Homo sapiens: one gene and its partner. The protein of the gene in region 2 interacts with the protein of the main gene of each other region in a biochemical or structural test. Each region holds a gene or a part of one and is shown on either strand. Other genes may lie near its edges.

Region 1 (3,500 bases), on a different chromosome or scaffold from region 2:
GGTAGAAGCCAGGGCTGAGTAGGACAGCACCTCACAACAAAGACTTATCTGCCCCAAACTGTCAATAGGGTTAAAAAACCCTGCCTGATCTCAAGTTGATCCCTCTGACCGGAAGTCCCTGCTCTAATTAATAGGGCCATGAAAATAGGACATCTTTGAAGACCTCACCCAATGCCAAACAATGATTTCTCCATCTCTCCTACTACACTTTTCACACCTCCACTTAATACAGCTGTAATTGCACTGTATAACTGTCTGGTTCACCATACTTCAGAGCCTTGAAAGCAGAGAATCATCTTTATATACCCTCTGGTGCCTAAAATGGCACAGGTTGAGCATCCCTTATCTGAAAAATCTGGAATCCAAAATGCTCCAAAATCTGAACTTTTTTTTTTTTTTTTGAGACGGAGTCTCGCTCTGTCACCCAGGCTAGACGGAGTGCAGTACCGCGATCTGGGCTCACTGCAACCTCCACCTCCTGGGTTCAAGGGATTCTCCAGCCTCAGCCTCCTGAGTAGCTGGGATTACAGGTGCACACCACCATGCCTGGCTAATTTTCATATTTTTAGTAGAGACGGGGGTCTCACCATGTTGGCCAGGCTGGTCTCGAACTCCTGACCTCAAGTGATCTGCCCGCCTCAGCCTCCCAAAGTGCTGGGATTACAGGGGTGAGCCACCGCGCCTGGCCCCAAATTTCGGATTTTGAATTTTCACTCACCCGCAAGTAATATTCCAAATATTCCAAAATATGGGGAAAAAATTACAAAATCGGAAACACTTCTGATCCCAAATATTATGGATAAGGCGTACTAACTGAATCTATATTAAATCAATGAATTCAATTCAATCACAGTAAGGTAGCACTGACATGATTCTCCTTCCCATAATGCACCGAGGATAACAAAGCAATCCTCAGCTGACATTGATATGGCTCAGATAACGACATGCACTGACATCAGACAAGAAACACACCAGGCACGGTGGCTCACACCTGTAATCCCAGCACTCTGGGAGGATGAGGCAGGTGGATCACCTGAGGTCAGGAGTTCGAGACCAGCCTGGCCAACATGGTGAAACCCCATCTCTACTAAAAATACAAAATTAGCCGGGTATAGTGGCACCCACCTGTAATCCCAGCTACTCAGGAGGTTGAGGCTGGAGAATCACTTGAACCCAGGAGGCGGAGGTTGCAGTGAGCCGAGATCACGCCATTGTACTGTAGCCTGGGCAACAAGAGTGAAACTCCATTTCAAAAAAAAAGAAAAAAGAAATACACCTGTAGTCACTACAGTAGGTTCCTCCTCCAACACTCAGTCTGGCCCCACAATCCCTCTTGCCTCAGCTCAGCATGCTCCAAGTCAACTCTTAAGAATCCTGGATAATTAATTATATCTACAAAGGACACAGTAAACAGATAATATACACACTAATTAAATGAGTAAATGAGATTTTCTATATTTTCAAAAGTCTGGACAAATGCTGTACATAGCCAGTATCCTCCTTTCACATTCCCGAAAATGTGAGAGAAGTCAAAAATTTCAAAAACGACAGTCACCTTTTTAGGGGTTTTTCCCACTCACAGAGTACAGAAACTTTTATTTCTAATTATACCCTCACCTTTCAAATGTAAACTTCATCATACATTTGCCTCACTTAATTCCTATTTCATTCTAATTATTGCATTCACTATTTGCACAAAGCCAACTAACCTAACCAATGAGCACAACCTAATCCAGTAAGGTTTAAGATTCATATCCCTAACCAGTTCCCTCTGTCTCAAGGATATTTAAGACCTCCAGGTAGGCCAGGCATGATGGCTCATGCCTGTAATCCCAGCACTTTGGGAAGCCGAGGCAGGCGGATCACCTGAGGTCGGGAGTTCAAGACAGCCTGACCAACATGGAGAAACCCCAACTCTATTAAAAATACAAAATTAGCTGGGTGTGGTGGCGCATGCCTGTAATCCCAGCTACTCAGGAGGCCGAGGCAGGAGAATCACTTGAACCCAGGAGGCGGAGGTTGTGGTGAGCCGAGATCGCGCCATTTACTTTTTTGTTTTCTGCTCATTCTTATAAAAAGGCAAAATACATCTGAACTTGCACATAAACACAAGATACTGCCGTACAAATACAGCAAAGCTGCTGAAACCAAACTATTCTCAGGCAATACCACCTTGCAATAAAAAGAAATCCCTTTCATCAGCTAATGTACAGAAGTTTGAACCTGACTTAAGGAAAGGAGGTTCAGAGTTGTTAACATATAGTGTATCAAATAGGAGGTCAAGCACAGTGGCTCAGGCCTATAATCCCAGCAACACTGGGAGGCCAAAACAGGAGGATTGCTTGAGGCCAGGAGTTTGAGACCAGCCTGGGAAACACAGTCAAACCCCTGTTCTCTAACAAAAATTAACCAGGTGAGGTGATGTCGGCCTGTGGTCCTACTTACTCGGCAGGCTGAGGTGCGAGGATGCCTTGAACCCAGGAATTCCAGGCTACAATGAGCTATGATTGCGTCACCACAATCCAGCCTGAGTGACAGCGAGACCCCTCCTCTTAAAAAAAAAAATCACTGCTCTTAACTAGGGGCTGGCAAACTATGGTAACAGACCAATTCCAGCCTCCTGTTTTTGTACAGCTCACAAGGTAAGAATGGATTTCACACAGAACGTCTGCAATCAATTTGATGACAGGGAACACTGAACTTTACCCAATAAAGCAAAATACTGTATTACCTCCCCTCCACACACACACACCAAATTGTTTTTCTCATTAGACCTAAGTTATACATAACTGTATTTAATTATATTTTTTATTTCACCAATAAAAATTTTACCCAATGTCCTCAATTTTGCCTCTTAGCCCACAAAGTCCAAAGTATTTACTATGTGGCCCTTTACAGAAAAAGTTTACTGATCCCTGTGCTCTGAACTCCAGAGATGTTACCAAGCAGAGCAACCAAAACTTTGTACACTACACCTCGACCAGAGAGAAAACACTGTTAGGCAGAAATGGGTTCAATACTATACGGTAACTTCCATGCTCTCTGGGGTCCAAGTTAATAATGAGCGGCCTTACTTAGGAGTTCTAAGTAACCAGTTAACAGAAAAGACTAGAAATGAGAGATGTAACCAACAGCCTCAACTTATAACTCTCAATAGCCACCAAAGTCAGCAGGAATAAAATGGACATCAAGGATACTAACAGGAGGCTTCGCCACTCCCTTTTTCCTTTCCACCCAATTCACAGGCTCTGTAGAAGATGGGATCTAATATGCACGATCACCAGCTCAAACTCATCCCAAGGAAAACAATTCCTTTGATTATGGTTGACTAACATGGTGTTCAAAGCTCACATGATTAATAAGAATAAACTGTAGGGTGCCATAAAATGAAGATGAATCAATTCTGTACAAGAGGTTGGAGGTACTGCAAGTTAAATACTGCCCCAGATTTTCCCATTCAGGTAATCAAATGGTTATTATAAACAGTATTATTCTAGGTG
Region 2 (3,500 bases):
GTCAACAGGTATTTACAAGAACCACACAAGTCTTACAGCAGCTTCCCCTCTCTCTGCTTAGGATTATACCCAGAATCTCGATTCAAGGGCAGCCCCTTGCAGTGGGTCCAGTATTTAAAGAAGCCACATTCATCCACTGTTAAGACATTTTATTGCATTTGTTCATTGTGCGAATGTAAATTATTCTGTGAACCCAACACATATTCCCCATTTCCCCTCTTCCTTTTAACAGTCTCTCTGACATACGTATTTTTTGCTGAGATTGGACACTTCTGCATAACCCCATGGAAGCACTGATTATGCACCTTGCCACAAATATGGCCATTTCAACAAAGACTGCCTCCTCTGTCTGTGTACTCAAGACACCAGTTTTCTTAAAGTAACTATCAGGTCTAGCAGTCTCCAGCTACTAGGTGCAACTGTGAGGATGCAAGCATACTGACCTGACTCTACATTTCCCAGCATGGCTGGGGAGGCCATGGTGAGGGGTGCTTTATGGTTTGGAGGGATCCCAGGACTCTGAAGGGGAGGTTTTGGAGAAGAGGTCCATCCAGGTGACGGGGCAGGAAGTGATGGAGACTTGAGGTGGACAGGTGAAGCAGCAGCAGACCCCAAAACAGGGGGGGACTTAATGGAAGCAGCAGCAGCTGGGCCCGCCAGCATGCCTGCCAGCTGCGATGGAGTCTGGGGGGACTTGAGGTTCCCCGAGGGCGAGCCCAGCATTGGTGACTGGACTTGGTGCATCGTGGGAGACTTCAGAGGGTTAATGCCTGGGGAATGCACCTGGCTGCCTGCCACAGATATATCCAAGGGCTTCCGCCCCAGGCCGCGCTGAACTGGAGGAGCTGTGTTGAGGCTGGTGGGGTTACTGGAAGGGTTGAGAGGTAGTGGTGGCATATGACTGAGCCGGCTGTTAGTCCTCTGGTCGGGCCCAATTGGTTCTCTGAGATTCCGCAAGCCACTGTTGCTGCCTGGACCCTGAGACATGGGAAGGAATGGTCTGGGGCCCATGCCATACTCCTGCTGGGGGTGCTCACCAAATGGCAGTGGCACCATCTTCTGCTGAGCAGGCAGCATGTCTGAGCCACCTGGGCGTAATTTCAGCATCTCCTCAGGGCCCGCCCCAGCCTCTCTCATCTTCTGAGGTATCATCTGAGAGTTGGATCCCATGTTGACATTTAGATTGACATCTCCCTTCATCCCACTAGGAACCATCCCAAACTCAAGTTCCCGACCAGGGCCCATCTGTGGGGGAATTCCTTTTGGAAAGTCACCCCTAGAAGGACTCAGAGGGCCCTCAACTGGTATTCGAGGGAAAATGGGGTTATTCCCAGGCTCCATGTGGCGCTGGGAGCCTGGAATCATCCTGTTCATCTCCATGCTGGGCCTGATGCCTTCCATGGCCATCCCTGGGGGGAGACCCAGCTGTTTCTCTGCCAGCTGCTGCTGAAACATCTCTTCAGACAATCCTTGGGGGTTTGGGAAGCGTTCCCCTCGGCCAGGACCGCTGAAAATGCCCTGGCCAGGAGGAAAATTTCGACCATCTGGGATTTTTGGCACATCATCTGGCCAACTGACTCCAGAAAGACCTGGTCTAGATGCAGGGTTGGGGACATTCGGCCCTTCCATTTCAGAGTTTATCATGCCTGCAAATCCAGGGAGGCGCATCTGGCTCCCTGGCATGTTGGGGTGGGGAGCCATGCCCCTCGGGGGCAGAGAATGTGGCATGTTGATACCATCAGAAAATGGCTCTGTACCCCCAGGTGCCCAGCCTTCACTAGGGGTCATCTGGTATGGAGGGGGGGGTCCTCGGACCACTCCCCGAGGCCCGTGCTGATGGACCATCATGTCCTGGAGGGAACACTGCTGGACAACCACTTGTTCCTGCTTCCTCCTCTTCTCTTCATAAAACTCCTGCTGCAGTTTCAGCCACGCTATCTGCTCGGGAGTCATATGGTCAAGGTGGTCGGGTCCTATGGTCCCAGACTGGGAGTTCATAGAAGGTGGAACCATTTCATCTGGAGAAAAGGGTACATCTCTATGTCCTTGAGGGCCAAATGGAGCTCCCACGTCTGTCCGGGGCCCAGGTCCCTTACCTAGGCTTTGGGATTGGGCCATCATGGCCTGTATTGGCCCTTCTGGTTTTTTCTGAGGCCCATCTAATACCCCAGGATTCTGCTGCGGTCCCCCACTTTGTGCTCCTGTGAATTCTTTCTCATCAGGAAAAAGCATGCGCTGGATATCTCTGAGAGTTTGTAAGGAGCGCTCCCGGTGCTCCAGCTGCTCCTGAGATAGGCCATCGGGATTCTCTCCCAGTGTGGGGGGCTCGCCACTGGACACTGGTGGAGGCGGAGGGGCTTTGGGATCTGCTGAAGAGCTATTGCTCCCCTGGGAGACAGGGGTCACTGCCCTATTGTTGGGAGTTGAGTTGGGCCCAGTACCATCTGGGGGCAGTGGAGTGGAGCTGGCAGGACTTCCTACAGAAGGAATCAGTTTGTTTTCTACCCCAGGACTCTCCCGGTCCAGGGGACGTGGGGGTGCGGCAGGCTTGGGTGCTGGTGCCGGAATGGGTGGAGTTGGCTGCAGTCTGGTATTCTGGGAAGAATTCTGGTCCTGGTTGGCCGGAGCTGGGGGCTGTTGTGGGAGAGGTTTCGGATCATTCCGAAGGGCAGATATCTGTGTGTTCTGAAGACAAACAAATAGTTTAAAAATCATTAGTAAACTGAACAGAAGGGCAATTAAAAGAGCAAGATATGTTATAAAGGAATTGTCCCCAGGCACATAAATCTAACTGACACTGGCTGTAGAAATTGCTCACGTACAACCCTCTTTTGGGCATGGAGACATTTTGATTTTTTTTTTTTTAAACTTACTGTCAAATGGTATCCTCTTTCCCTTGCTGAAGATTAGGTTTCAATAACTTTAAAAGTATGCCAGGGGAGAGCCACTCTGCCAAAGTGAATACATTTCAGTATCTATTTTGAGGAACAGGTTTGATATCACATGTCTACTATGTGTTTCTGATTCAGAGAGAGATTAGTTTCTTGGTATGTGGGAGGCTGTACCTAACACCTTTTTCTTTTCCCTGAAAGTATAACTGGGTATGTAGACTTCTCATTGTCAATCAAAAGGCCTGATGTTGCCATCTTGAGAGAGAAAGCGTAAGTCACTTGCAGCTCTGTATTCTACCAGCCGAGGAAGCAGCTGCTCCATTTCAACGTCTCCTCTGGCAGGGTGACTACTGAGGCACTCCCCTCCTGGAGTTTCCAGGAGGCCTGACATCTCTGGTTTCCGTTTTTGGTTGGTGATCACTGATTCCACATTTGATAAGAATTTGTACATTAACTGTAGTGAGATAATCTGCAGGCAGGAAGCTTCTGTGGAGAAATCTGAGGCTATCTAGCTCATGGTGTCTCTTGAACTGTTCTTTCCAATAGGCAGTAGACTGCCCTTTTTTAATATGCTGGATGATTGCCTTATTATTGTTTATTAAGTACCAC

What was found. The genes of interacting proteins can lie anywhere in the genome.
Region 1: the proteins of BCL9 (region 2) and USP9X form a complex in vitro, tested with the Homo sapiens proteins (one study listed by BioGRID).

What each region holds. Positions count from the first base shown.
Region 1 is NC_000023.11:41,091,945-41,095,444, reverse strand, and holds part of USP9X (ubiquitin carboxyl-terminal hydrolase 9X), read right to left. Parts: intron 1-3,500.
Region 2 is NC_000001.11:147,618,001-147,621,500, reverse strand, and holds part of BCL9 (B-cell CLL/lymphoma 9 protein), read right to left. Parts: intron 2,686-3,500; coding exon 444-2,685; intron 1-443. UniProt on the Homo sapiens protein: Involved in signal transduction through the Wnt pathway. Promotes beta-catenin's transcriptional activity.